4 linked regions of the Homo sapiens genome follow. The protein of the gene in region 2 interacts with the protein of the main gene of each other region in a biochemical or structural test. Each region holds a gene or a part of one and is shown on either strand. Other genes may lie near its edges. The genes, in order: ATF6B, NFYC, ATF6 and POU3F2.

Evidence for each region.
Region 1: the proteins of NFYC (region 2) and ATF6B form a complex in vitro, tested with the Homo sapiens proteins (one study listed by BioGRID).
Region 3: the proteins of NFYC (region 2) and ATF6 form a complex in vitro, tested with the Homo sapiens proteins (one study listed by BioGRID).
Region 4: the proteins of NFYC (region 2) and POU3F2 form a complex in vitro, tested with the Homo sapiens proteins (one study listed by BioGRID).

What each region holds. Positions count from the first base shown.
Region 1 is NC_000006.12:32,125,242-32,132,162, reverse strand, and holds the start of ATF6B (cyclic AMP-dependent transcription factor ATF-6 beta), read left to right. Parts: upstream 1-3,916; 5' UTR 3,917-3,955; coding exon 3,956-4,046; intron 4,047-4,412; coding exon 4,413-4,492; intron 4,493-4,642; coding exon 4,643-4,721; intron 4,722-4,968; coding exon 4,969-5,060; intron 5,061-5,910; coding exon 5,911-6,046; intron 6,047-6,921. Other genes in the region: FKBPL (FK506-binding protein-like), read left to right, coding at 2,383-3,432.
Region 2 is NC_000001.11:40,764,689-40,771,710, reverse strand, and holds the end of NFYC (nuclear transcription factor Y subunit gamma), read right to left. Parts: intron 5,116-7,022; coding exon 5,008-5,115; intron 4,794-5,007; coding exon of another isoform or gene 4,737-4,793; intron 2,356-4,736; coding exon 2,296-2,355; intron 1,315-2,295; coding exon of another isoform or gene 1,003-1,314; coding exon 883-1,002; 3' UTR 108-882; downstream 1-107. UniProt on the Homo sapiens protein: Component of the sequence-specific heterotrimeric transcription factor (NF-Y) which specifically recognizes a 5'-CCAAT-3' box motif found in the promoters of its target genes.
Region 3 is NC_000001.11:161,762,255-161,769,331, reverse strand, and holds the start of ATF6 (cyclic AMP-dependent transcription factor ATF-6 alpha), read right to left. Parts: upstream 3,013-7,077; 5' UTR 2,972-3,012; coding exon 2,890-2,971; intron 2,884-2,889; exon of another isoform or gene 2,526-2,883; intron 305-2,525; exon of another isoform or gene 1-304.
Region 4 is NC_000006.12:98,829,589-98,837,573, reverse strand, and holds the start of POU3F2 (POU domain, class 3, transcription factor 2), read right to left. Parts: upstream 3,001-7,985; 5' UTR 2,701-3,000; coding exon 1,369-2,700; 3' UTR 1-1,368.

The sequences.
Region 1 (6,921 bases), on a different chromosome or scaffold from region 2:
TCCCAGCACTTTGGGAGGCTGAGATGGGATGATGGCTTGAGGCCAGGAGTTTGAGACCAGCCTGGTAAACACAGCAGACCCCATCTCTCTAAAAAAAAAAAAAAAAAAAGAAAAACATACGGTTTATGAACCAGCAGCATCTGCATTAACCAGCTTATTGAAATGCAGAATCACAGGCCCCACAACAGACTTCCTAAATCATAATCTGCAACTTAACAAGTTCCCTAGGTGATATGTATGCACACTTATGTTTGAAAAGCACTAAGATTTCTTGATGAAGGAGGACTTGAAAGGCAATGATGGATGTGAAAGGAAAGGTAAAGAGAAGCCTCAGGTAGTCACCCAAGGGACAGGGCCGGTTGGAGAGAGAGTCCCGAGGTTTTATCCTGGAGAACACCCTGTACTGAATGAGCTCTGAACATAAAGATAGTTAGCATAGGAGGGCCTGAAGTCTCCAGATAAAAGGCTGCTGCCACTATCATTTACCACGACCTCTGCCATTCTCCACTCTATTGTCATCCGCCCCCAGTCTCCATTCCAGGACTTCTCTACACTTTGACTTTTTGTTTGTTTGTTTGTTTGTTTGAGACGGAGTCTTGCGCTGTCGCCCAGGCTGGAGCGCAGTGGCACGATCTTGGCTCACCGCAAGCTCCGCCTTCCGGGTTCATGCCATTCTCCTGCCTCAGCCTCCCGGGTAGCTGGGACTATAGGTGCCCGCCACCACGCCCAGCTAATTTTTTGTATTTTTAGTAGAGACGGGGTTTCACCATGTTGTCCAGGCTGGTCTCGAACCCCTGACCTCAAGTGATCCCCCCGCCGCCCCGCCCCCTCCCCCCGCCCCGCCCCCCCCCGCCGCCTCGGCCTCCCAAATTGCTGGGATTACAGGCGTGCGCGATGCCCGGCTTTTTATTTATTTATTTATTTATTTTTGAGGCGGGAATCTTGCTCTGTCGCCAGGCTGGATTGCAGTGGCACCATCTCGGCTCACTGCAACCTCCGACTCCCTGGTTCAAGCGATTCTCCCACCTCAGCCTCCCAAGTAGCTGGGATTACAGGCACACGCCACCATGCCCAGCTAACTTTTTGTATTTTTAGTAGAGACGAGATTTCACCATGTTGCCAGGATGGTCTCGATCACCTGACCTCGTGATCCGCCCACCTCAGCCTCCCAGAGTCTCAGTTGCCAAAGCTGGAGTGCAATGGCGCGATCTCGGCTCACTGCAACCTCCGCTTCCCAGGTAAGCCATTCTCCTGCCTCAGCCTCCTGGGTAGCTGGGATATAGGCGCCCGCCATCACGCCGAGCTATTTTTGCATTTTTAGTAGAGACGGGGTTTCACCATGTTGGCCAGGCTGGTCTTGAACTCCTGACCTCAACCTCCCAAAGTGCTGGGATTACAGGCGTGAGCCACCGCGCCCGGCCCACCTTTTTTTTTTTTTTTTTTTTTTTTTTTTGTTTGAGACGGAGTCTCTAGTCTCGCTCTGTCGCCCAGGCTGGAGTGCAATGGTGTGATCTCGGCTCACTGCAACGTCTGTCTCCCGGGTTCAAGCGATTCTCCTGTTTCAGCCTTCCGAGTAGTTGGGATTACAGGCGCGCGCCACCATGACCTACTAATTTTTGTATTTTTAGTAGAGACAGGGTCTCACCATGTTGGCCCACTTTGACTCTTGAGCAGCCTGGCCAGCCCGACCGCGCCAAATTCTGTTCGATTCTGCCTAGTTCGGTTGCTCTGGCCTAGTTCAGTTGCTAAGGCCTGGAGCTTCATGGTTGCGGAGGAAATGATGTCACGTTCAATAGGCGGGCTAACCAGATTCCTCCCTTCTCCCGATTGGCTGCCAGGAATTTGACTAGATTCGGAGTCTCGCGGGCTCCAGGGTTAGTTGTCAGTATCTTTCCCAGTTGTTCCGCCCCCTACCCCCGCCTCCCGCACCGCGCCCCTCTCCGGCTGCCCTCTCCGCGTGGGGCAAGGCTCCGAGGGCAGCATTCAGTAGCCATTTAGCTTTGGAAGGAGAGGTGATTCGAATGGCCCGGCTCCTCCTGTCACCATGCTAGGCACTTTGGCCGCGCAGGTACTTATTGACCCGACCGGGTGTCCGTAGTTGGCGCGGCTACCTTAACCGCAGGGAATTGTGGAATTTATAGTTCTAAATTATATGTGGGTGGAACGGGGAAGCTGGAGCAGATTTTTGGAGGAAAGCAAAACTGGGGACTTTCAGGACTAGGGGCCTGGGTCTCAGAAGAATGGGAAAGGACGAGAAAGGAGTCTAAATAAGAACCCTGCTATTAGCATTGTTTGGTTTTCTTTTCAGGTGCTGACCTGAACCTGGTTCATCCCTTTCTGACCAAAACTGTTCACTCACCGTGGAAGGGACTAAGCATCCATATGGAGACGCCACCAGTCAATACAATTGGAGAAAAGGACACCTCTCAGCCGCAACAAGAGTGGGAAAAGAACCTTCGGGAGAACCTTGATTCAGTTATTCAGATTAGGCAGCAGCCCCGAGACCCTCCTACCGAAACGCTTGAGCTGGAAGTAAGCCCAGATCCAGCCAGCCAAATTCTAGAGCATACTCAAGGAGCTGAAAAACTGGTTGCTGAACTTGAAGGAGACTCTCATAAGTCTCATGGATCAACCAGTCAGATGCCAGAGGCCCTTCAAGCTTCTGATCTCTGGTACTGCCCCGATGGGAGCTTTGTCAAGAAGATCGTAATCCGTGGCCATGGCTTGGACAAACCCAAACTAGGCTCCTGCTGCCGGGTACTGGCTTTGGGGTTTCCTTTCGGATCAGGGCCGCCAGAGGGCTGGACAGAGCTAACTATGGGCGTAGGGCCATGGAGGGAGGAAACTTGGGGGGAGCTCATAGAGAAATGCTTGGAGTCCATGTGTCAAGGTGAGGAAGCAGAGCTTCAGCTGCCTGGGCACTCTGGACCTCCTGTCAGGCTCACACTGGCATCCTTCACTCAAGGCCGAGACTCCTGGGAGCTGGAGACTAGCGAGAAGGAAGCCCTGGCCAGGGAAGAACGTGCAAGGGGCACAGAACTATTTCGAGCTGGGAACCCTGAAGGAGCTGCCCGATGCTATGGACGGGCTCTTCGGCTGCTCCTGACTTTACCCCCACCTGGCCCTCCAGAACGAACTGTCCTTCATGCCAATCTGGCTGCCTGTCAGTTGTTGCTAGGGCAGCCTCAGTTGGCAGCCCAGAGCTGTGACCGGGTGTTGGAGCGGGAGCCTGGCCATTTAAAGGCCTTATACCGAAGGGGGGTTGCCCAGGCTGCCCTTGGGAACCTGGAAAAAGCAACTGCTGACCTCAAGAAGGTGCTGGCGATAGATCCCAAAAACCGGGCAGCCCAGGAGGAACTGGGGAAGGTGGTCATTCAGGGGAAGAACCAGGATGCAGGGCTGGCTCAGGGTCTGCGCAAGATGTTTGGCTGATTAAAAGTTAAACCTTAAAAGAGACAGGAACTTGTGAATTGTGGTCTGTGCTGTGAGATTTGGGGGTGGGGGGCCAGAGGGAAGGTTTCAGCCCATATCCCATTCTCAGCTTTTGGCTTCCTAGGGGAGGTAGCAGTGGTCACAGTGCGCCCCTTTTGAGGGGCTTATCTATCTCCGAGGACACATAGAAGCTGTCTAAACTAAACTTAGTAGTGGCTGGGGGAGATGGTGGACCTTAATACTGGGTACTACATCTCCCAGGCGCTTTATCACTGGAGCCTGTTTGGCGCATGCGCTTGGCGGTATGGCACTGTCTGGAAGTTACTTCCTGCTGCTGTGCTCCCATTGGGCCCGCCTACACAGTCATCCGCATCTGTTGATTCACGTGCTCAGCACCCAGGTCTCTTACTGGTCGGTAGAGCTTCCGGGACGCCCCCTTTTTTGAAAGAGTCAACTGATTAGTTGGTGATGGGGAGAGGCGGGCCTTGGGAACCGTCTCCTGGTTGGGGGGTGGGGGGGAAAGATGGCGGAGCTGATGCTGCTCAGCGAGATTGCTGACCCGACGCGTTTCTTCACCGACAACCTGCTTAGCCCGGAGGACTGGGGTCTGCAGAGTGAGGCACCGGGGAGGGGAGAGGGCTGTGGCAAACTGTCCCTGAGGCACGCGGGAAAGAAGCGGGGGCCTAAAGAGGAAGTCTGGGCAAATACGGAATCCGCCATCTGAAGGAGAGCGGAGCAGGGGGCTCGTTGTGCATTAAGGGGGATACAAAAGTCAGGGAAGAACTCTGCTCCCTGCTGGAACGTCGAGTTGTTCCGGGGTCGGGGAAGGAGGGGCTGAAGCGCCCTGGTTGTATCACTTTTCAAGTGGGCGGGCGGTGGGTCTGGCCGAGCGGAGCCAATGAGGGATGGGGCGGGGGCTTGTGTGCGATCTGTAGGCTGGGGCCACCGAACGACCCCCCGACGCTCAGCATTTCTTGCAGACAGCACCTTGTATTCTGGCCTAGATGAAGTGGCCGAGGAGCAGACGCAGCTCTTCCGTTGCCCGGAGCAGGATGTCCCGGTATTGTGTCCCCAGCCTTTCTCTAACCCTTGGTGGGTGGAAAGTGAGCCCAGAACCTGGACCCATTCACAGGCCATAACTCATCTGGAGTCACCCCTACTTTCTCATCCTTTCTCACACTCCTGCCCTCTTGTATCCTCCCTTATTTAGTTTGACGGCAGCTCCCTGGACGTGGGGATGGATGTCAGCCCCTCTGAGCCCCCATGGGAACTCCTGCCGATCTTCCCAGGTAAGGTAGTCTTTGTCGTTCCCTCAGATTTCCAGAAACCCTCATCTTCCCACTGTTTCCCAGAAACTACGTAGCTTCCTATATCCTCACGCTTCTACATAAGTGCCTATCCTCTCTCCTTCAATCCCCTATTTTTGTTTCTTCTCCCTTGCTGCGGTACAGGAATCCCCACCGACATGTCCTTGGGTACTTTTTGGACTCTTCTTAAGCTCTGCTTCCTGATAATTTCTAACTCCCTTTCCTCCAGATCTTCAGGTGAAGTCTGAGCCATCTTCCCCCTGCTCTTCCTCCTCCCTCAGCTCCGAGTCATCGCGTCTCTCCACAGAGCCATCCAGCGAGGTGAGAGAGCCATATCCCTCTTACTCTCTGTGACGGGGACTCTGCTTCATTCCCTTCACCCGTGGGTGACAAAGAAATGATTTAAATGATTTGTGTGCTATGAGTCATGAGGTGTGTGAGGTGTGGGGGGCCTTCTCCACTACCTTTGCCGTTTCCTTAATATCTTCATTTTCCACATCCCCTTTGGTTATCTAGCAGTGAAGATTTTTTTGTTTGTTTGTTTTTTGTTTTTTGCTTTTTTTTGAGATAGGGCCTCCCTCTGTCACCCAAACTACAGTGTAGTGACAGGGTCACAGCTCACTGTAGCCTTGACCTCCTGAGCTCAGGTGATCCTCCTGCCTCAGCCTCCTGAGTAGTTGGGACCACAGACACATGCCACCATGTCTGGCTAATTTTTTTTATTGTTTGTAAAAATGGGGTCTTCCTATGTTGCCCAGAGTGGACTTAAACTCCTGGGCTCAAGTGATCCTCCCACCTTGGCATCCCAAAGTGCTTGGATTACAGGTATAAGCCACCACGCCTGATCTTGGGTCTTTTTAATATAAAGAGTTATGTGGGGCTGGGAAGAAGAGAGTTATTGACTGCTGAGAATTCTGGAACTGTTCTTGCCCAAGTTGTCCACTCTGAGGCCATATTTGAAGTCATGAGACTTCATCAATTCTCCCAGAAATAAAGTAGAAAGAATGAACAGGTTAGAAAGATGGTCAGTACCATTCAGACCAGAATGTCAAATAATTGATGGCTTGTAAGCCCTAAACTTCTAAAGCTTTTGTTCTCGCTCTTACTGTCAACATCTCCCTTGTTTTTTGCCCTTCTTTCTGCCCCCTGCCCCACACCAACTCTCACCCAGGCTCTTGGGGTAGGGGAGGTGCTCCATGTGAAGACAGAGTCCTTGGCACCCCCACTGTGTCTCCTGGGAGATGACCCAACATCCTCATTTGAAACCGTCCAGATCAACGTTATCCCCACCTCTGATGATTCCTCAGGTAATAAAACAGCCTGCCCCCAATCCTTGGCTCTACTACGGGAGAATGTGTTATGTGTGTGTGTGTATGTGTGTAGATGGAGGGGAAGTGCAGGCAGCAGGACAGGGAGAAAAAGGTGGGGAGGGGAAATGGCAGAAAACCAGGAGGGAAGGCAGGAAGGAGAGGAAACATTTCAGGGAACCACAGCAAGGGCAGTGCTGAGGAGATGGATATTATTTTTCTCTCTTTTTCTTGTTCCTAGTATTCTGTCATGCCATTCAACTTACTTTTTAAAAACTTGTGAGCAGTTTAGGGCATATGTATCTGTGTGATTCCCCTCCACCCAACATTTTATTATAAACATTTTTGTTGTTGTTGAGACAGAGTCTCACACTGTCGCTCGGGCTGAAGTGCAGTGGTGTGGTCTCAGCTCACTGCAACCTCCACCTCCCAGGTTCAAGTGATTCTCCTGTCTCAGCCTCCCAAGTAGCTGGGATTACAGGCACCCACCACCACGCCCAGCTAATTTTTTGTATTTTTAGTAGAGATGGGGTTTCACCATGTTGGCCAGGCTGGTCTTGAACTCCTGACCTCATGAGTCGCCTACCTCCGCCTCCCAAAGTGCTGAGATTACAGGCGTGAGCCATCGCGCCCAGCCCATAAACATTTTTAAACATACAGAAAGGCTAGAACACCATATACTAAACTAGATTCTACAATTAACATTATTTGTTCTATTTTTAAAGTGTTCCCAAGTTTATTTACTCGTAGCTGTGTATTTAGTAAATGTTTATTGATGTGATCATATCTGAGGTATAATAATTATAAAAAAGAAATATTTATTAAGCACCTACTCCATGCCAGATACTGAGCAGCATGCTGGGAATGCAAAGATG
Region 2 (7,022 bases):
TCACAAGGGTGGCCCTCTCTCCCAGACACACAAACTGAGGGCAAATGAACCTTTCCAAGCAAAGTGGCCCCATGAATGCCCCCAGACACAGAAACCCAGACTCTAAATTATCTAAAATGAGATTTATTGCATTTCATGCAGCTTGAAGTCCATGCAAAGGAGACTAGCACAGTTTTTAATGCATTTAAAAAATAAAAGGGAGGTGGGCAGCAAACACACAAAGTCCTAGTTTCCTGGGTCCCTGGGAGAAAAGAGTGTGGCAATGAATCCACCCACTCTCCACAGGGAATAAATCTGTCTCTTAAATGCAAAGAATGTTTCCATGGCCTCTGGATGCAAATACACAGAGCTCTGGGGTCAGAGCAAGGGATGGGGAGAGGACCACGAGTGAAAAAGCAGCTACACACATTCACCTAATTCCATCTGAGGGCAGAACAACGTGGCAAGTCTTGGGGGTAGCAGCTGTTCCCAGAGTCAAGAAATACCGTACACCCCTGGGGAGATTTGCTCCTAAAAAGAAGTGGCAGTAACAAACAAAAAAAAAAGAAAAACAAAAGGAGAAATATTTCTTCAACCACACTCTTCAAGAAAATGCCATAAATATGTTATTTAATATTTTAATTTCATAGCATTGGACACACACTCAACATATTGAAATATTGATTCCTTAGAGAAAAAAATGGAAAAAAAGGAAACAAAAAATATTGCATCTTTCTGCTGGAGAATCTCGGCCCCCAGGCATGGGGTGTAGTGCACCAGTGTCCTAGCCTGCAGGAGGCGCTGAGGTCGGCCGGGTCCTCTGGGGAGGAAGGCTGTGCCCATTGCCTGGGGCTGTATGGCAAAAATTGTGTTGGGTGTCCTTGGCCTTGCCAGCTCAGGCCCTCAGTCGCCGGTCACCTGGGGGGCCTGCCCGTCGGAGGGCTGGTTGGCTGACTGGATGAACATGGGCTGGGCGAGGTCCTGGCCCGCAGGCATGGTGACTTGCTGGATCTGGTAGAGCTGCTGCGAGGGGTGGAGAGGAGAGAGTGAGGTCATCCCTGGGAGAGGGGCATGCAGCTCCCTATGGGTCTCGAGCTGGTTGGGGGTCCCAGATACCTCAACCACCACCCACTGCAAGGCGTCAGAAGGAGGAGGGGAAGTGGAGCTCTGCTGGGGTTGGGAGCAGCAGACACAGGAGGCACCAGCCCGGTGTGAGGGGGGGTGTGTGGTGGGCAGGGAAGAGGTGCAGGGAGTTGAATTTCCTGTGGCTTTCACTTCTCTGGGCTCTGCCTCTCCCGTTAGCTCAGAGACTCGAGCTTGCTGCACGCTGTTCCTCTGTGGCAAACACAAGCAATTCGAACCACTGTACCAGCAGCTTGGAAGTCAGCATTTCCCCAACTCTTGGTAATCTACACTGGCAGGGGCAGTAGGATTACCCCCTCCTCTCCTTCTTTTCTCAGAATATCTGGCTCAGGTTGAAACTAAACTGAATTTGAATTTTCTCCATGGACCCTGCTAAGGAGGTGGCCTGGTATTAAACACTTAACTATAGCCAAGACGCTCCAGGGGTGGAGAAGATACTCACACAGCCACTTAGGAAGGTCAGGGCTAATTGACTACTTGGTTTCCCAGGCGCTCCCCAAAGAAGCCAAAAGCCAAGCCCTCATGGGAGCCCTGGCATGTAAGCCTAGCATGTGGTGCTGGCAGAAGCCAGAGGTGGGTCCTGATGCCAGCTCTTCTCCCTTTTGAGCAGCAGAGGGCACAAGTTTGGGCATGTCATCCTATCATGTCCTCAGTGGTCTCTGGGACTGTACTGTGAGGGGAAAGCAGAGGGAAAAGGGAAGATTCTCTCCTCGCATGGACTGAAAATGACTGAATTTCAGGCACCCAGAGAGCTCAAGAGGTCACGTGTTCTCTGCGTCTCAACAGTCCATGCTATTAAAACAGCATCATGGCTTAGAGGGGAAAAAAATACAGTTCTAGAGAGGGAAACAGGAAACCTGCTCTCTAGTCCTGGCTCTGCAATGAACATCTAGGGGAGCATGGACAAGGCACTTCCCATCTCCAGGGTTCAGTTTACTCATCTGTAAAATGGCAATTTGGGCTACATGTCTAAGATTATTTTAGTTCCCACTAAGTCTATAAAACTAAAGGATAGGTGCCCTGATTTAAATACCGTACTTGTTTTAACAATTTCTGTCCACTCACTGTTAGTAGAGGACAGGACAGTTGCCCTAACCATCCAAACCCAGATACTACCTGCTACCCTGCCCCGCAAATCCTCACCCTCTGCCCAGCCCAGGTTGGGTACCCTACCTGTCCATCTGTGAACTGGCTGAACTGCTGCTGTCCTTGCTGGACCTCTGTCTGTGTAATCTGTAAGAATCAAGATGGTAGAGTTGGTATGTCAGCTGCAGGGTCTGATCCACCAGCCCACCACCCAAAAGAGGGTCATAAAGATCAAATGAGACAATGCATATAAAGTGCCCAGCAGGTGCTCAATGGGTAGTAAGCAAGCAAGCACCCCTCCTAATCTAGCACTGATGGCTACGTCAAGAGTTGGCAGCACAAAGTGACATCGAGAATCCTGGAGCACATAATAGATAGTTCCCACACCCATCTCTCTAATGAATGCCTACTCCCTCAACCACCCACTCATCTCAAACTCTGAGGCTCAAACAGAACACATGGACCCTAGGTGCTATGGTTTGGGGTAGAAGTCCTAAGAGTCAGTCTTTCAGCCAGTGAAGGCGGACTGCAAAGTGTCAGACAAAGTGGTAAGTGGCCTCTTTCATTCTTGGAAGGTGGGCTCCAAACCAAACCCGTATCACCCAGATCATCTGACTGGAATATGAAACACCCTGGCGAGCAAGTGGCCTTGGTCCCAGCAGTCCTCATGGCAAACCTATGAAGTACTTTTTCCGAGAGAGGCACTGTGCAGCCCTCTGGGCCAAAGGAGGGGAGGAGAAAAGGGGAGGGACCGGGAGTGGAACAAAGACAACATTTATCACAAGTACTTAAAATCTTATGTGTGGACTGTGAATGGATTTTAGATAAATGTACTGACATGTAGAACTGCATATATAATGACAACTGCTGGGAGCAGCTCGGTAAACTAGAAAGAAGACTGCGGTGTGCATGCACATGTGTTCCTATGGAACATTTGGCCAGCAGTGTCCTCTGTGTACCATTTCCTGGAATCATCACAGCCAGCCTGCAAGACAAGGACTGTCCTCTCAAATGTCCTCACCATGGCCAAAAACAACCCCTGCAGGCCTACCCATGAGGCTATGAGGAACAAGAAAGGGAACAGGTATGACAGGCTTCATGACTATTTTTTACTATTGTTCCTTATTTTGGTCCTTTTCCTTCCAACAGCCTATAAGATGCCTGAGGGCAGGAGCCCATACAAAGTTAGTATTCCAGAAATGTTGCAGAATAAACAAGTGAGCCTGAGACAAATGGAAAATATTCCACATAGATAAGAAGGTTAACTGCTCTGTGGCCAGCAGGATTGCCATTCATATTAGCTGAGATTTCATTTACCTTTACATTTTATTTACATATTATTCATTCAGCTTCATTCAACAAACATTTACTGAGCACCTACTAAGTATTAGGTTGTCATAATTACAACCTGTTGTTACAAAGATTTTCATTGCCTTCAGCTACCACTTTCTTGCTTCTCCCCAGCCTCTCCCATTTTTTGGCTTTAGTTCTGTTCCCAAAACGGACTTTTTTTAATTTTTATTTTTTGAGACAGAGTCTCACTCTGTCGCCCAGGCTGGAGTGCAGTGGCACAATCTCAGCTCACTGCAACCTCCACCTCCTGGGTTCAAGTGATTCTTGTGTCTCAGCCTCCCAAGTAGCTGGGATGACAGGCATGCACCACCACGCCCAGCTAATTTTGTATTTTTAGTGGAAACGGTTTTGCCATGTTGGCCAGGCTGGTCTCAAACTCCCGACCTCATGTGATCACCTGCCTCAGCCTCCCTCCCAAAGTGCTGGGATTACAGGCGTGACCCACTGTGCCCAGCCCCAAACTGACTTCTGAGGAACCAAGAAGCTTCCTTCTCATTTCCTCCCACTCCCATGCCGTTATGTTTTTTGGATCCCAGGGAAGAATCTTATGAGGTTAAAAAGAGGGGCTGGGGGAAGGGTGTGAGTCAGTATCAGCTACGGAAAAGCCGCGTCCTTAGGTAAGCCGGGGAGTGGGCACAGAAACAGCCCTTAATGATCCCAGAGACTATATGGAACTCAGAAGCCTTGCTTTTGGCTCATTCCTCGTATTTTCCCAAATGAGATCTTTGGAGACCTGCTCTACAAACTCAGCTCTGTCACCACTGTCAATAGATACATCACCAGAAATGCAACTGGGCCAGACGGGTCCAGCTCTTAAACGATCGCTGCTTTTTTTGGGTCTGAGGCAAAAGAATCCATTAACAATGCCTCCCCTTGACCAGCACCCCCCATCTTCTGCAAGTAATACCCATGTCCCTCAACACCCCCAAGCCCAGGGAGGCAGCCCCCTCACCATCTGTGACTCATAGCCATCAATATTGTAGGGCACGAGAGGAGAGGAGAAGGGCAATTTTTCTGGTTAGGGATGCAAGAGGAGGTAGGGGTAAAATCTAAGTAAGCTTTCCAAAGAGCACAGGAGGTGCCAGAACACAACAGCCACTTGGGTTTAAAGATGGAAACAGCCTGACGATCAGGCGATCTGTCGAACATTTCCCAGGTCTGATGGGTGTGCACACCTGTAAGGTTTCTTTCAGGCACCTTCGAGGCTTCCCCTGACTTGCATTTCTTTGCCCCTTGAGAACAAGATGGTAAGAGAAAACACTTTGAATCTAATGTTCCAATTACCACCCATGCCTCTTGGGTGCAGAAGGATATGGAGGGTGTGGGGGTGGTGCTTCTGGTTGAAGGATGAGGTGGCAAGACAGCTGTGTGCTGAGCGCTCCTTTCCTGTCAGAAGCCATCTGCTCCTGGTCTCCAACACAGGCCTTGTGTCTCTGGGGCACATACCTGTTGAGCATTGGTGGCAAGTGTCTGGATCTGTCCCTGCACAACTTGAGTGCCTGATACAGGCTGGGCTAAGCGGATATACTGCAGCTGGCCGGCATTCAGCTGCACCTAGGGCAGGGGCAGAGACAAAGAGACCATAAGACATTGAGTATAATCTCAAACAGGCAAACTTTCCATGACCAGAGATGTTGATTGCCCCCTACCCCTCAAGCCCTCCAAAGAAGCCTGCCCTGAAAAAAGTCCCTTTTAAACAGAGGTCAAAACAAGCAAAATCAGAACATCCACATCCCACAAGTCACACAGCACAGAAGAGAATATATTCCCTGAATGGACTTCAGAAAAAACTCCCAGAAGATCCTGTCACAAAGGTGAGAACAGCATGGCTGCATGCTCATTATTTGCCAGCTCTTAGCTACATGATCACAGCTTATCTTAGGAATTTATCTGACTGACATCATCAGAATGCCTGTACATTAAGTGTGGGCCTCTTTCGCTCCCATCTGTAAAGAGATCCAGCATCTGCCAGGATCCCAAAGCAAACAGCCATCATTCCGCATCATAGCCCTCACACTGCCCTGCCCCATGCTGCACATTTTGGAGGCAAAAGCTGGACTGCTTAACCATCTCTGTCCCCAAGAGCCAGGCTGGATGGGGGTCTGTGGGGCTTTTAGGATCTTTGGTGTTCAGCACTAGCTTCTGGCCAAACACCTCCCAAGGGGAAGCAGAATCAATAAACCTTTCATAGAAAACCCCATCATGGGAAACCAAAGCTACGAAAGCGCCCTTAGAGTCTCTCATGCTTACGATTAAATCTCAGATAATACAATAATACCACATGCTGCATTTAATTGTGTGCTAAAAGCCTTAACTCAGGCTCTTAATGCTCCAGTGTACCATGAAAGTATTAGTGTTTTGAGCTGGGGATGAAAAGAGGACCAAGGCGGTTACCACATCAGAGAACTGTAGCTCAGCAAAGATGATGGTCAGCAGAGGAGGACTGCAGACATTCACACCCTCAATTTAGAGGAAATGAAAGGGGTTCTGGGAGCATGGATAGACTAGGTCTCTATCTGCGGGGTCCAGAAACCACCTGCCCTGGCTGCCCAGCCTGCCTTTGTTGCAAGGGGAAGCTTCTTGTGGCTAACAGGCAAGTATTGCCTCTGCTCTGGAGCAAATTTCCCTCTGGCCTTCAAGAGCTAACTTCACTGCAGGACTCTTCCATGAGGAAAATGCTAATGGGATGAAGCTGCATTCCTGCACGCAGTGTTCAATCAAAATGCTTCTCTGAGACTTCCAGCCTCACAGAATTTGAACTACCGAGAAAAAACGACCTCTCAAGTTCACGGTAGACCATTCCAGAATTGCCCACTTGAGGCAAGATGGAGGGACACCCAATCTAAACCCATTAAAAATCTGGTTCAAAGGAGACAGGGCAAGAGTATTAGGACCTGCAGTCATTTCTTTCCTGAGAATATGCCAAGAGAAGCTGCTGGGAGGCTGTGGTGCCAAGCCTGAATTCCCCACCTAAATCCTATAATGCAGCTTCCTGGCAACAATGTTAAGTTGCTTGTGGGGAGGAAGGCAGCTGGGCAGAAGTTTGGAAAACCTCATCTACAGAGACTGATGGTGGCTAGTTCCAGGAGTCCCCAGAACTCCAGCCAGGGATCACAAGATGAAAAACTAAAGCCTTGTCCCAGGAGTGGGAGAAGGTATACTGACAGCTACAGGGATGTTAAAATTTTCTAGCTGGGAAGAGCTCTTTGCAGAAACCCAAATGTGACTGAAAAGCTGTGAGCCAAATGGTTCCAAGCAGCTCTTCAACAAAGCAAGAAGCTTTCCTTTTTGGCCTAGGTTAAGACATTTGGTGATGATCCGTCCCTCATTCCTCTACAGCAGGACAGGTCTGGGGACCCTCATAGCTTTTTTACATTAATTACAGAGAAAATAAGCTCTGGGTTTTTGAAAGGGAAATAAAGTTTCCTTCCTGAAGCTCATCACTATTAGGAACATTCCAA
Region 3 (7,077 bases), about 120 Mb from region 2:
GGGATGAAGGGGAAGTATGTGGACTCTTTGTACTATCTGCTCAATTATTGTGTAAATCTATAATTATACTAAAAAAGTAGGCTTATTATTTAAAATAATTATGTGAAATTCAAATTTCAGTGTCTATAAAGCTTTATAGAAACACAGCCATGCTCACTTGTTTATGCTGTCTCTGGCTGCTCCTGCACTATCACAGCAGACTTGAGTAGTTGCAACAGTGACCATGTAATCACAAAGCCTAAAATATTTACTATCTGAACCTTTACAGAAAATGTTTGAAGACTCTTGCTCTAAATTTCATTACCTAAGTTAAAAAGAAAAAGGAAAGCACATCCCTCACAGGCTGTTCTGAGTTAATCACTTTATTTAAATTATTTAGAGTTGTTAAAATCACAGGACATACTAATTACATAATCTGATTTTTAAATTTTAACTAGATAGTGTCTAATATTAAAAAAAAATCAAGGCTAGACACAGTGGCTTGAGCCTGTAATCCCATCACCTGGGAGGTTGAGGCAGGATGACTGAGGCCAGTTGGAGACCAGTCTGGGCAACACAGCAAGACCCCTGTCTCTACAAAAAATTCAAAAATTAAAAATTAACCAGGCATGGTAGCGGTGTGCACCTGTAGTCCTAGCGACTCAGGAGGCTCAGATGGAAGGATCACTTGAGCCCAGGAGTTCCAGGTCACAGTGAACTATGATTGCATCACCGCACTCCAGCCTGGGCGACAGAGCAAGACCCTGTCTCTAAAAGAAACAACAACAACAACAACAAAATCAAGTAAATCAGTGAAGTACTTGAACATCCAAAACAGCAACTGTCACAGAACGAAACACTATCAGACAGTAGTGTTTCACTCTATTGCCAACAAAATCTATCCTACTTACTGAACACCTAAGGAATTAAATTAAAGTCTTCAAAGAAGAGAAGACTGTTAACAGTTTGAAAAGGGAAACCTGGAAAACAATGGAAATGGGCACATTCAGGGAGGGACAGGGCAGGATACCCGATAGAAGTGAGTCGGTGAACTGACTACAAAGAACTGAATGCTCTGTTAGAGAACATTAAGTCAAGTGATCAGATAAGTCTGGAAAATGCAGCCTGGGTATCAGAAGACGACATAAAATTATGCTACCAGGAAGTGTCCCACAGTTATACTTTAAGAAATGTCACTGGCCGGGCACAGTGGCTCACACCCGTAATCCCAGCACTTTGGGAGGCCGAGGTGGGCGGATCACCTGAGGTCCAGAGCTCCAGACCAGCCTAACCAACATGGAGAAACCTCGTCTCTACTAAAAATACAAAATTAGCCGGGCGTGGTGGTGCATGCCTGTAATCCCAGCTACTCGGGAGGCTGAGGCAGGAGAATCGCTCAAACCCGAGTGGCGGAGGTTGCGGTGAGCCAAGATTGCGCCATTACACTCTAGCCTGGGCAACAAAAGCGAAACTCCATCTCAAAAAAAGAGGTAAAGAAAAGAAATGTCATGAAAATATAATAGCTGACTAGCTGACAAAATAAATCATAACTACCCAATATATTCAAGTAGTCTTATTAATAACCAGGGATCTTAGGAAGAATAAAATCTGTAGACATGAGTTAGGAAAGCATTATAGAATAGATGCTAGGGGTACAGACTTTGGAGGTAGAAAAACCTGGTCTGATCCTTCTTCTGCCACTAACTAGCTCTAAGAATCTGAGCACAAATTCTGTTAGCCTCAGTTTCCTCATCTCTAAAATAAACAGTACCTCATTGGACTGTTGGTAGGATTAAACAAAATACTTCATGTCAAGAGTTTAACAGGGTCCCTGACACAAAGAGCTAAATAAATGGTTACTGTCACTAATGCATTTGGCTTGGGAAAATGGGAATAAAAAATCTTAAGTTTTCCAGCAACTCTTAAAAAATCTACCCAAGGATTAAAATAAATCTCCAATAGAATATAGTTTTAGAGAACATCTGTCCTTGAAACAATTAAATGACTTTGTTCAATAAAAAGTTGAGATTCCTTCCACTCCTGCTATTGAGAATGCTGATCCAAGGGAGAAAGATAAACTGGGTTCCCCCCAGTTCCAAGGCTGATGAGTGGTGTAGGCTCACTAGCGGGCCCATTTGGGAACCTACACAATCCCAAATTCATATTGGAACCTAAGAACAATATTACTATTATATCTTGCAATCAAGAGGAGAATAAAAGTCTCCTCTAAATACTTAGATAACAAAGTTTCTTCATTCTCATTTCCACTTCATCCCATTCCACCCTTCCTGACCACCAAAACCAAACAAAATATCCATTAACAAGAAAATTAAGAGCTGTATCTGGAGAGCAGTCAGGATTACACCATAAGTATTAGGTGTAGCTAAGCAGGGACCCGAGGTCAGGTGCTTGGGTGTTTTGCTTTTCTGCCAAGACGGACATCAGGCTTAAACCAATAGTAAAAGCTGTAAGATTAGAATTTCTTGTATATAACCACATTCTCTCATATACACCAAACACACAAAAACCCACTCCATTGTGCTCACCGCCCACATTTCACACTCAGGAAATAGCTTGTAGCCTTTTTGGCGGTCCCAGCCATTTTGCTCTAAACCTCCTAAAGACGTCCAGTGTTAGCCACACAAAAAGATCACCCGGTACTTCCCCAGTGGGAATAGTGAAAAACGACAGTTAACTCCAGTTAGACAATATTCTACTCTCCCTGTGGCCAGGACAGAAGCCGAACGATACTCCCAGACTCTTCCAGGGGCACGAACAGGAGTGACGAGGGGCCTCACTCCCCAGGCAGGGTTGGTCCACACCTGTCACCACGAGTGGGCGGAAGTAGGGAGGAAGAAACCTTTAGACGCGAACCCGAGCCACCCTGGTACATTCTCAGATCCCACTCACCCCAATCTTCATCCAGCCTGTGAAAGAGTCCCGGGCTAAAAGGTGACTCCATGGTGCCGGCAACCCCAGCCGGCTCCCCCATTTCACAAGTTCCTTCTCCCTGGAACTCCGTGATTAATATCTGGGACGGCGGCGGCAGGCGGACAAAATACTCCGTAACGCTGACGAGACGGTGGCCTAGTAAAGACAAACTACTTTTGCCGCACGAGGGATTTGTACGACACAGGAAAACGTCAGAGACTAAGCAAATTTGAATAGACCTCTGAGTAAATATTTCCCTTTTGGAGTTTTCAGGACTTTCTGTCCCGCTGTTTTATGGGGAAGGCGGGGGAAGACACGCAGACATCAATTCGACTAAACAAAGTTTATCAATAATATTAAAAATAAAAAGTAAAGCCCCTTTCTGAACATTATGGCTTATTCCTTGATTATCCTTCTTAATGCCACAGCGTGGCTATCTCAGAACAAAATTAGAGACTAACAGTAAATTTACTTTAATTTTTACGAATAATTCTCTATCAATGTAAAAATTTTTCATATACGCGTGTATGAAAGAAAAACACTACTATTTTTCCACATTCGTGAAAACTGCTTAACTGGGACAGTAACCGAGGTAAGTGGTACTATAAAACATACTTCTAGAAAGACTACTTTTATTTAAATAAATTGAAACAAAGCAAATATAAAAAGATAAACCCCCCAAATTTATCTCCTAAAGATAAATTTCTAAAGCATAGTATTTAGTCAAAGTCCAAGCGAGTCTACCCTAAGACCTACAGTAATCGAAGTTCCCAATATTTGTATTACTAAAGATTCGGGTTTTATTTAAAGGAAAATCACATACATCACGAACTCCAACTGAAAATATGAACTGAGTTTGATAAAGCAGTTTCAAGAACGCTACTTAAGAGAATTTCTTTTTCATCCATTTTAAATTTCAGCGGCCAGTGAATATTTAAAATACTGTAACCGACGAATACGTATGCTTCTAGGACCACGTGGAATCTTTCCCATGGTAGGTAAGCAAAACAAATGTGCTTCCCAGAACCCTCCAAACTGCTCGTGGGTATATTACTACAGATTACATAATGCAGCAGCGTTCCGGGACGCAAGCCCAGAAAAAGATAATTAAATCCCCTTACGTCAGATGTAACTACTTTTGTCATTAGAAAACTAATAAATTTTCACTTAAGGTGAAATTTATAACACTTTAATTCTCACCCAATTACAAATTCAAAAATTGACATAAAAAACTAAAATAAGGCCGGGCGCGGTGGCTCACGCCTGTAATCCCAGCACTTTGGGAGGCCGAGGCGGGCGGATCACGAGGTCAGGAGTTCGAGACCAGCCTGGCCAACATAGTGAAACCCTGTCTCCACTAAAAATACAAAAAGTTAGCCAGGCGTGGTGGCGGGCAAGTAGCTGTAATCCCAGCTACTCGGGAGGCTGAGGCAGGAGAATCGCATGAACGCGGGAGGCAGAGGTTGCAGCGAGCGGAGATCGCACCACTGCACACCAGCCTGGTCGACATTGCGAGACTGCGTCTCAAAAAAAAAAAAAAAAAAAAAACCTAAAATAAAATAAAATCATCGAGTCTTCTGTATCCCACTAGACACCTTAGTCTTTTAAGAAAATCACCATGACAAATCGCCAATTTTTTTAATTTCCAAAAGATTTTATTTTTATTCAAAAAGTGCAAGTAATTATGAAACAAACATTTGTGACCTATCACCAAGAATTTAAAAATTTAACATTTTTCATTTTTGTCCCAGATTTTTCATAAGAAATTAAATACTACAGAATTGAATTCCTCTTTCCTCCCTGCTTCATTTTCCTCCCTTGGCGTAGGCCACTTCTACCATGAATTTTATGGGTATAAAATTTTATTTTATAAAAATAAAAGTGTAATTCTAGTCCACTTTTATTTTTAGTTTTACGGTGCTTAAACATGTTTATAGACACATGCATTTAGTGTCATTTGGGTTTTTTTAATGTATGTAAACTTTAATGTTCTCCAAATCATTTTTCTTATTGGATATTAAGGATCTACCCATGGTATTTCCTTGAATGAATCTCAATTTCTCTCTCTCTCTCCCTCTTTTTTTTTTTTTTTTTTTTTTTGAGACAGGGGCTCACTTTGTCCCCTAGGCTGGATTGCAGTGGAGCCATCTCAGCTCACTGCAGCTTGACCTCCCAGGTTTAAGCGATCCTCATGCCTCTCCCCACAATAGCTGAGACTACGGGAACCCACCACCACACCCGACTAATTTTTGTATTTTTTGTAGAGACAGGATTTCACCATGTTGCCCAGGCTGGTCTCAAAACTTCTGAATTCAAGCAGTCCGCCCGCCTCTGCCTCCCAAACTGTTGAGATTACAGGCGTGAGCCACCGCACCCAGCCTCAAGAATGTCTTAAATAATGTATGTACTATTTTATCAGTTTACACCCTCACTAGCATTGATGAGTTCTCTTTGTTCCACATTCTCTCCAACACAAGATATGGTCAGACTCTTACCATTTTTACCGCTGTGAAAATTGCAATTTACATTTCCCTAACAAAGTGGTGCATTCTTCCATACTTATGAAACCTTATTTCCTCTTCTGTGAACTGTCCACTCTTACCTTTTATAAAGTTTGCTATGGAGTTTTCTTTCACAAATGATGTGTACGTCATTAGATAGCCTGCTCTATTCATTCACCTGTATAAAGTAAAACTAAACTCCTAAGTCCGCCACCAACAGAATAGGCCCCCTTGTGGCCAAGGGGATCCTAGAAAACCTTAAAACTGAGTTCTAGACCACGATGGGACAGGTTAGACACACCTTGTTATACTCCCTCCCTTTTGTAGTTTAACACAACAACTGGCCAGCATTAATGTTAAAACAGAGATGATAAGACTGACAGAACAGACTCTGGCAATAAGATGCCAAATTATAAAAAAGACCTAAAGCCATTCCAGGCAAGGTTTTAGTCCCACACCCCTATACTTAAAGAATAAACTGTGTTCTAACTGCCACAAGATTCTTCTCTAGCAGCTAAACAAGTACTGGCCTAAAGATAAACAATATTAAAATAATGTGCAGCTCCACGAGATGCTGACTTACTGACCCCCAGTCCCCGTTCCACCAGCCATAGCTACAGCTTTCATTGGACAACTTTTTGTTGATTTCAGTAACTTTCTCCAGGTAAGAAGACCACTGGCCATGGACTGGTTCTGGCTGGTCTACAGAGGTCGCACATTTGCATGGCTTCATGTCCTGAAAGACCTTTTGACGTATAGGGCTCGTAATACATTTAAATGTTAAGTCTTGGCTGGGTGTGGTGGCTCACGCCTGTAATCCCAGCACTTTGGGAGGCCCAGGTGGGAAGATCACGAGGTCAGGAGCTTGAGACCAGCCTGGCCAACATGGGGAAACCCCATCTCTACTAAAAATACGAAAATTAGCCAGGCGTGGGGGCAGGTTCCTGTAATCCCAGCTACTCAGGAGGCTGAGGCAGGAGTATCGCTTGAAACCGGGAAGTGGAGGTTACAGTGAGCTGAGATCACATCGTTGCAGTCCAGCCTGGGTGACAGAGCAAGACTCCGTCTGAACAACAACAACAAAAAAGTTAAGTCTCCATCCCAAAGTGAATATGGGTCATATGTTACATGAGTTTTTGTTCAATACGCATGTGTCAGGACCACTTTCATGAATATTCATAGCTCTTCCTGTAACCTGGTGAAAATGTAGGTTTAGCCAACCTGTTCAGCCTGAACTACACTCCAAGCCCTCCTCCTTCAAAGCGCCTGTTTCTGGAGGCACGCTTCCCAGCCTGCAGGATGGCCACCTTGCAGGCCATAAAGTCTCCCCTTCTTTTCTAAATTTATTCATTGTGGGGCTTTTTAATATATACATTTTTAAAAGAGAGAGAGAGACAGAGTCTCGCTTTGTTGCCCGGGCTGGTCTCAAACTCCTAGGCTCAAGCTATCCTTCTGCCTCAGCCTCCCAAAGTGCTGGGATTACAGGCATGAGCCACCGCACCCAGCCCATTGTTGGGCTTTTTTAAGTTAACGCTTGGTATATGTTATAAATACCTTCTCCCAGGTTGACACTTGTCGTCTTTGTTTACGGTGATTTGTTCTCTAGATTTTAATTTCAATGTAGTCAAATTTATCAATCTGTTGTTATGATAGCTGACTTGTAGCT
Region 4 (7,985 bases), on a different chromosome or scaffold from region 2:
CTTGATAAACAAATGAGCTAGTGAAGACAAAACCTGTCTACTGCGTGGAGATCGTCAGTGTATGCTGTGGGTATCTGTGTGCTAAAAAACACAGTCTTATGCATACACTATTAAGTTCCTGGGTCTTTTTTTATGTAAAAAAAAAGCTATTAGAGAAACAAAGTTTAACTGCTGCTGTCAGCACAAATAATTCTTCATAATTGTTACTAAAACTGAAGGTAGAGAACTATATAGGGATATCTGAAGATATGTACTTCCCTAGTTCTCTTCAAAGTGCCACTTTCTTTCTGCTGGACAACTCTGGAAATATATTTAACCTCCACATTTCCCCTGAGCTCTTTCACAATGGGCCCGCCTGATAAAATGAAGCAATCAGTCACTCACTATCGATTTTTCTTTTTTCTTCCCTCCATAACCTCCCCCAGAAACACTGCCTGAAAATGAAGTTTACTTTGTGGCTGGTAAGAACAACCAATGCTTATTTTTATATTCCAAACCGGATTCTTGCCTTCGATAAAGCGGGTAGACCATGCACATTTCCTGAAATCAGAGAATTGTCTATTTTGTATGAAGCCAATCCTTTTGCTTTGGTAAGAGGAACAAATAGATGTTACACCCTCGTAAGGGGAATGTGAAGGTAACCAAAGTTCACAAACAGTACGAAGAAGGGGCAACACAAGAACATTAGAAATGGAGAGTGGCCAAGAGCTGGCTTCAACTCTCTCCGATGAATAAAGCAAAGCAAAACAAAATCCCCCAAAACGGCAACTCCCAAATTAACGGTGGGGAGAAAGAGAAAATATGCTCATGAATTTGTTCACGTAAACTTCAATTTTCTTGCAGTGCAAATTTATGTGGTTAAATTTTGCCTATATGAAAGAACATGTGTATTTTTTCCTCTTTCCTGATGGGAATCCACAATAAATAAACACAGCAGCATGTGCCAACTCTAAGCATCAGGAAGCTGCATTTTGTGTTTATCATGGTTTGGTGGATTTTTTTTCCTTTTTGGTAATTTATTTAGTTTTGCCAGGTATTTATCTCAGTGCTTGCCATCTCTCTGTCTCTCTCTCTTTCTAGCTATCACACACTCTCCTCACTCTCTCCAGGAGACACTCCACTCCATTGCCTGGTTACTCGCCTGCAAAGGTCAAAACACATCATTACACCTGCTACCTTTAAAGGATAGTCCAGTGTCTTAGTTGCTTTCCTTTTGCCTTATTTTTTTTGTCTTTTTAAGGGACGGGGAAATAATAATTAAAAATAAAAGAACAATCAGAAGTTAGAGAGGGAACAAGAGGGCCGGGAAAGGGCCAAGGACCGAAGGGGAGGGGGAGCCCCGCGCTCTGCCCCTCCCCCAGCTCGAGTTCACTGGACGGGCGTCTGCACCCCGTGGTGTGGTGGAGTGTCCCTACTCCCCCCGTACACATCCTCGGCGCCCGGCAGAGTCCCTCCGGGAGGGGTCATCCTTTTCTCTTTCTGTCTCCTGTTACAAAACCAAACTCTCACCACCTCCTTCTCCAGCTGTAAGCTGTCCGCGAGGGAGGTGATCTCCTGGGCCGAGGGCTTGGGGCATTTGAGGAAATGGCTCTCCAGAGCCCCCTTGACGCTCACCTCGATGGAGGTCCGCTTTTTCCGCTTGCGCCCTTGCGCTGCGATCTTGTCTATGCTCGTGGGGCTGCCCGAGGACGAGTCCGCCTCCTCCAACCACTTGTTCAACAAAGGCTTCAGCTTGCACATGTTCTTGAAGCTCAGCTGCAGGGCCTCAAACCTGCAGATGGTGGTCTGCGAGAACACGTTGCCATACAGGGTGCCCAGAGCCAGCCCCACGTCCGCTTGGGTAAATCCCAGTTTGATCCGCCGCTGCTTGAACTGCTTGGCGAACTGCTCCAGGTCGTCCGAGGTCGGCGTGTCCTCGTCCGAGTGCGGGTCGTGGTGCGCGCCTGGGTGGCCAGGCGGACCCTGCGGGGGCGGCGGGGGCGGCGGCTGCTGGTGTGGGTGCGAGTGCGGGTGCGGGTGGTGGTCGGCATGGTGTGGCTCGTCGTGCGCGTCCCGCAGGCCGTGGTGGTGCAGACCGGCCGGCTGCCCGCCGGCGCCCAGCATGCCGTTCACCGTGAAGCTGGGCTGCGAGTAGAGCAAGCCGCCGTTGGACGCTCCCATGGAGGGTGGGAGGTGCGCTGCAGCCGCCGCGCTCCGCCATGCCCCGGGTCCCGGGTGGTGGTTAGCGGCGTGGTGCACCAGATGCGGCGGCCGCTGTTGCTGCTGCTGCTGCTGCTGTTGCTGCTGTTGCTGCTGCTGTTGCTGTTGCTGCTGCTGATGCTGCTGCTGCAGGGCGCCTGGCCCGTGCAGCTCGTCTCCGCGGCCGCCCTGCTGCACCACCACCGAGGGCTTGATGTCCGGCTGGCCCAGGGGGCTGGTGGACCACGGGGAGCCGTCGCCGCCGCCCCCGCCGCCGCCCCCGCCCCCCCCGCCGCCGCCACCGCCCCCGCCGCCGCCGCCGTGGGACAGCGCGGTGATCCACTGGTGAGCGTGGCTGAGCGGGTGTCCGTTGCTCTGCAGAGCGCCGTAGTCGCCCTGCACCAGGCTCTGCGCTTCGCGGTAGCCCCCCGCGCCCTGCTGCATGCCGCCGGGCGGCTCGGCGTGCACGATGGAGGCGCTGGAGGTGAGCAGGCTGTAGTGGTTAGACGCTGCGGTCGCCATGACTCTCGGAGCCGGACTGAGCGCTCCGGTTAAAGGAGCCGCGCATTTGACAGTTACTTTTTCGCCTCGGGCTCCCTCTCCTCGCTCGCTCTTTCTGTCTCCTCTCTCTCCCACAGCGGGCAGCTCCGACGCCCGCTCCGACGCCTTCTGTTGCTGCTCCTGCTATTACTGCTGCTGCTGCCGCCGCCGCCGCCTCCCGCCCGCCCTCGCTCTCTTTCTCCTCCTCTCCCTCCTTCTCGCTCTCGCTCACTCTCTGACTAGCTCGGCGCTCCCCCCTCTCCCTGCTCTCTCCAGCTCTCTCCCGCTCTCTTGGCAGCGCCGGCTCGCAGCGGCACGCGCCTGGGCCCCGCCCCCTCCGCCCCCTCCCATTGGCTCCGCGCCCTTTGATTTACGTGGATACCGCTAGCAACCTCCCAGGCCGGCGCCACTGATTGGCGCAGAGCTACTCCCTCCCCCTCCCCCGGGCTCGGAGTCCTCCTAGCCCTCCTCCCCGTCCCCTTCGCCTCCCGATTCAGATTCTCTCAGTTCTCACCCCCCCGCTTCTTCCTCACCCGGGGCCTCCTCCGCCCTCTCTCGGATGGGCCCCGCCCCCCATCTGTCTCCCAGGCAGAGAAGACCGGCAGGGGGGCGGTCCCGGTGCTCTTATCGGCCACAGACACTTGGAAGACTTGGATTGGGGTGGGGGGCGGGAGGCAGTGGTGTCCACTTTCGTTTCCCAATAGGGCTTTAAGATGGGGAAACGGAGGGGGTAAGGGAAAAGCTGGGTCGCACCGAGCCAGCGGGAGTCGGATTTTTATTCACCTAGGGACACACACACAGTGTGTATCTCTTAAACCTAGAGCCAAGAGCCAGACCTGTTCCCCTGTTCAACTCTCCTTGCATCCCACGGTTAGAATTTCAGTGCACAAGTGTCTCTTGCTCCAGGGTGTGCGGACACTTCGGCCCAAAGCTCTTCTCCTTCCCCTCTACCCCGCGGCTAGCACAGGCTCTCTTCCTTTTAGGTTCCAGGCCCAATTGTCTCCCACTCCCTTGGGGAAAGAACCCCGAGAGAGGCAGGCTCAGCCCGCACCGCGGCTTGTAAGTCATTCCCATCAAGGCTCGGAGTTGCTTGCTCTGACAGCGTAGCGGTCTGAACTGAAAACCAAACAAAACTCTAAAAGTCTCTCCGTCAGATTCACACGCCGGCGCGTGCAGTTTTTGGTTTAGAAAACTAGAAGCCTGCGTGGGCTCCGTCTTGTGCGAGGCTGCCGGAGTGCTGGCGAGGGGTGTGCGGCCTTGTAGGGGCGGCGCAGTCGCCAAAGGCCGCTCCGGGAAGCCGCGCGGAGGGCCTGCGTGCGCGATTCCCCGTGCTCCTACCGCTGGTAGGTGCAACTTTTCCGTTAGCCCCTTGGGAAGGAGGAAGAGTGTGTGAAGCAAATGGGCTGATGCCAGGGGAACCTTCCTAATCAGTAACTTCGGTGGGCGCTAGCGGGTGGGGTTAGTCTATGTCTTTGGCGCTCCCTGGCCAAGCTCCCAGCTCAGCTTTCAGCAGTGAACTCCAGAGCAAGACTATGGGACCATGCACCCGCAGCGCCGCTCTACGGAGCGCGGGCGCGTCGCGCCATCAGTTCTTTAGCCGCCCAGAGCAGGTGCCGCCTGCGAGTTTCCGAGCCTGCAAGCCCGGTAGCTAGAACTTGGGCGCGGACCCAGGCTGGAGCGGCGTGACCGCCACGCAGGGCCGGGTGTGTACATGGGCGCTGTAAAGCGAATCAACAGTTACTGCCGGGAAGGGAATGACAGACCCCAGGGAACCTGGATCGCGTCCCCACCTCTCACCCCTCGCTCTATCGCTGGTTTTGCCGGCGGTCGTAGGCTTGAGAGGGCAGCCAAATCAACGCTCAGAGGGAGCATTTTGGGGCCTCTGAGCATCTGAATCCAGACAGCAGACTGGAGCGGGCCAGAAAATTCATCATGACTAACAAGGAGTCATGCTCTTTGGAGAGTGGCTGAGCTGTTTATAAATCACCACGTTGAGCACCCGCCCGGGCAAGACGCTTTGGCTGAGAATTTCCACGTGTCCTGTGTTTATGAGCGTGTGTGGGGGAGAGAAATGGATAGGGGAGGGGCGAGCCCACAGGCCGCCAGCAGGACGGACCTGCACCCCCACCACGCGCGCACCCGCGCGGCGAGGCGAGGCGAGGACACACACAGCGTGTCGCTCCGTCCCAGCGCAAGCGCGGGGCCACTCTGGCCGCGCGCCTGGGGGCTGCTAGGAATCCCATAACTTTGTCTAGCTAGGAAAAAATGAACAAGTCCGAGCCTCAGCGCGCAGACTCAGCGACTGGTGCCCGCGGCTCCGCAACCGCGAGCCAAGGGGCTGGGTGGCGGGCAGAACCGCCTTCTCCCGGCTTCGGCCCTGCGTCCCCTGTGCTAGGCGCGTGACTTTCCCTGGGCCTTGGGGAGCGCACAGACAGCCCGCCAGCCGCATCTTCTCCTGACATGTCGTGCCTTTCTTTTCGCGGACCTGGAGCTCAGAGCTCCCACGGACAGAAGAATCCAGCCCTGGGGAAGGGCCGCGTCCAAGTGCTAAGCAGCTCATACTTCTCCCCCACCTTTCTGGGGCAGGTGTCTGCTTTTCTCTGGATTTAATTTCACATTTCTCGAGGCACAAGGCCTTCTGCAGCCCATAGGATGATACACTCGAAAGAAGAATGAAGTTTTCAAACACATCTTCGAAGGAACTGAGGCGGCCTGGCTCTGAATCAATTTAAAAGTTCCTCCTCCTCTTATCTTTCTCTCCACACCCCACCCCACACCCCCGCCCTCCTCCCGGCATAGGGCGCTAGTGTGAGGGGACAAGAATAGGCTGCACGTGTACATCAAAACTTCCTGTCTGCGATAGGACATCACCGGCGATTAATGCTGAGATCCTTCCCACGTTGACTTCCCAGGTCTCAACTCCAACTTCCATCCCCGTCTCATTTCGCTGGCGGCCAAGGAGCCGAAACGTTCCCAACAGGGTTTAATATACCCAATAAATCCCCGGGAGTACACAAAGAAATAGCCTACCCGGGGCCTCAGTCTCTGCACCCCACCCCCACCCCCAAGCGCGGCCAATCACCGGGCGGGCCAGGCTGGGCTCGCACCGCGGCTCTGAGCAACACCTCCCCACGAGCTACCGCCGCCTCCCCTCCAGGCGCCAGGGGCCCGGTTGGCGCGAACGCCGGGTTCCGAGCACCCTGGGCTTCCTTGTCTGCCTCCCAGCGCGGCACCTCTTCGGGGCTCCCGAAACCTGAGCTCTCGCTGGTTTTAGGTCCAGACTGGGGCCTCTCCACCGGTTCCTCCCCCGCCCCGGGCTCTGGGGCCCATTCTTTGGGCTGACCCTGTCAGGGCAGAGTCCGCGCGTCTGCCTGCCATTCTCCGCCCGCATAAAAGCACGTTGAAGGTGTCTCGGGCAGACACCTCCAGGTTTTGAATCAGTTTATTCCCTTTCACTGTTCAAAGCAGCTGTTCAAATACACAGGCTGCTTACGTTGACGTGGAGAGGATTTCAAACAACGCTAAAATGCTTTGAACTGACAAGGTGTCTTGATATCTCCCTCACTCCATCCAGCACAGCTCCTCGAGATCACTCGCTAGGACAATGGCTGAGCAGGCGATTCGTGCGGGCCTCGCCACCTCGGGGCGCGGACTGCGGGGTGTCCTAAGCCCCTTCCGCAAGGACAGGATGGAGGCACCTGTAAGGAGATGCTGGCGCCACCCCAGCTTCTCCCAGGTCCGGAGGAACCTCTACTCAGTCAATACCCTGAGCTGGACTTGTCTGAAGAAACGGAGCCGACTCCCTCTTGCCGGGGTGCGCTGAGTGGAGGGGAAACATCCTCGAATAACAGAACTACACCAAAAAGACACCCATGTTATCTCTCACACTTTCACACTCCTCGAGATAGTGAGCCGGACCTGGGTCTTAGTAGCACCCAGTACCTTGACACAAACCTCCCAAATTTCCACCTGAGTAACAGTTATGGGGTCAGTCCATGCACTGTAACTTGAACTCTAATTTATTAACTATTTCATCTAGTAAACACACTCACACCATATATAAAATAGCATTTATTTATTTCTATATACCAGGAGTTGGCAGAAAACCCACCGTGACCACTCCCATACATTGAGCTGGAGGCACACAATTACTAAAACAGAGGTGAAATGGTATTCATTTGATCTTAATTTTTTCTTATTTATGTAGTCCCAGGATAATAGAAATCAGGAAACAAAAGAAAACAAAGAATTTTCTGAGGAGATGGCCATTGGGGGAGTGGAGGTAGCAGCTGGTTTAAACCTAAGTAAAACTAGAAAAAGAAACTGCTGTTTCCTTTTTCTTATATCCACCTTAGAGGATCATGTTTGAACGTCCCTACTCCTCCTCCTCTTTTTAAAAAGCCTTGTCTCAGTCATTCATTCCTGTGCTTCCTGCTCTTCTGCTAGACCCCAGCAGCTGTTTGATTTGGTGAGGCCCCCCTCCAACCTCTGAGTGGAACTTCTTTTCTAAGGGCCTGCAGAATGTCAAAACTGAGGCTCTGGCTTCGGAGCTAGAGCTTTGAACAGCCAATCCACACAAAAAGGCAGCTGGCTGCTTTAATGAAAACTGCTATAAAGCTTCAAGAACTTTAGCCTTGGGGGATGCATTTATAAGGAACATGGAAAATGCATTTCCAAGTTGCTGGTTCTTGGGAGAGACATAATAAACATTTACCAAAAAAAAAAAAAAAAAAAAAAGGATAGAACTTACTATCTTTAATTATGCAGCAGCATATTTTTTCCTGAAGAAATAAAGCTTCCAATAAATTTGTATGTTACTGTCTATACCTATATTTTGCAAATTCCTAAATGTGCATCTGTCCTTGTGTAATAAAAGGTCTTGAAGAATGAAAAGTTTTCTGAAAGTTGAAACTCTCCTACGTCATATGCTTGGCAACTCTGTCCATACCTCACATACAAACAATTCTATTTTACCTTCACTACTGTGTAAACCAGTGAAATATAATGTCCTTAATTCAGTATTTGAAATAAAATTATCTGTATTTATAGATACTAATATCTTTCCCTTTTTCTTCAAGTTATAAATTTTATCATTAAAACAGTCCCCCCTTTGTAGTCTGCAAGTGAATATTTTATATACAGGGATGGCTTGAAGACATCTAACACCATGTCACCCAGATAGTCTAGCTGTTTCAAGGATTACTTTGAGTAATTTATCAAAGGAAGCCTGCTAAATCCTGAGCGGTGAATATGAGGCCTTAGGAGGG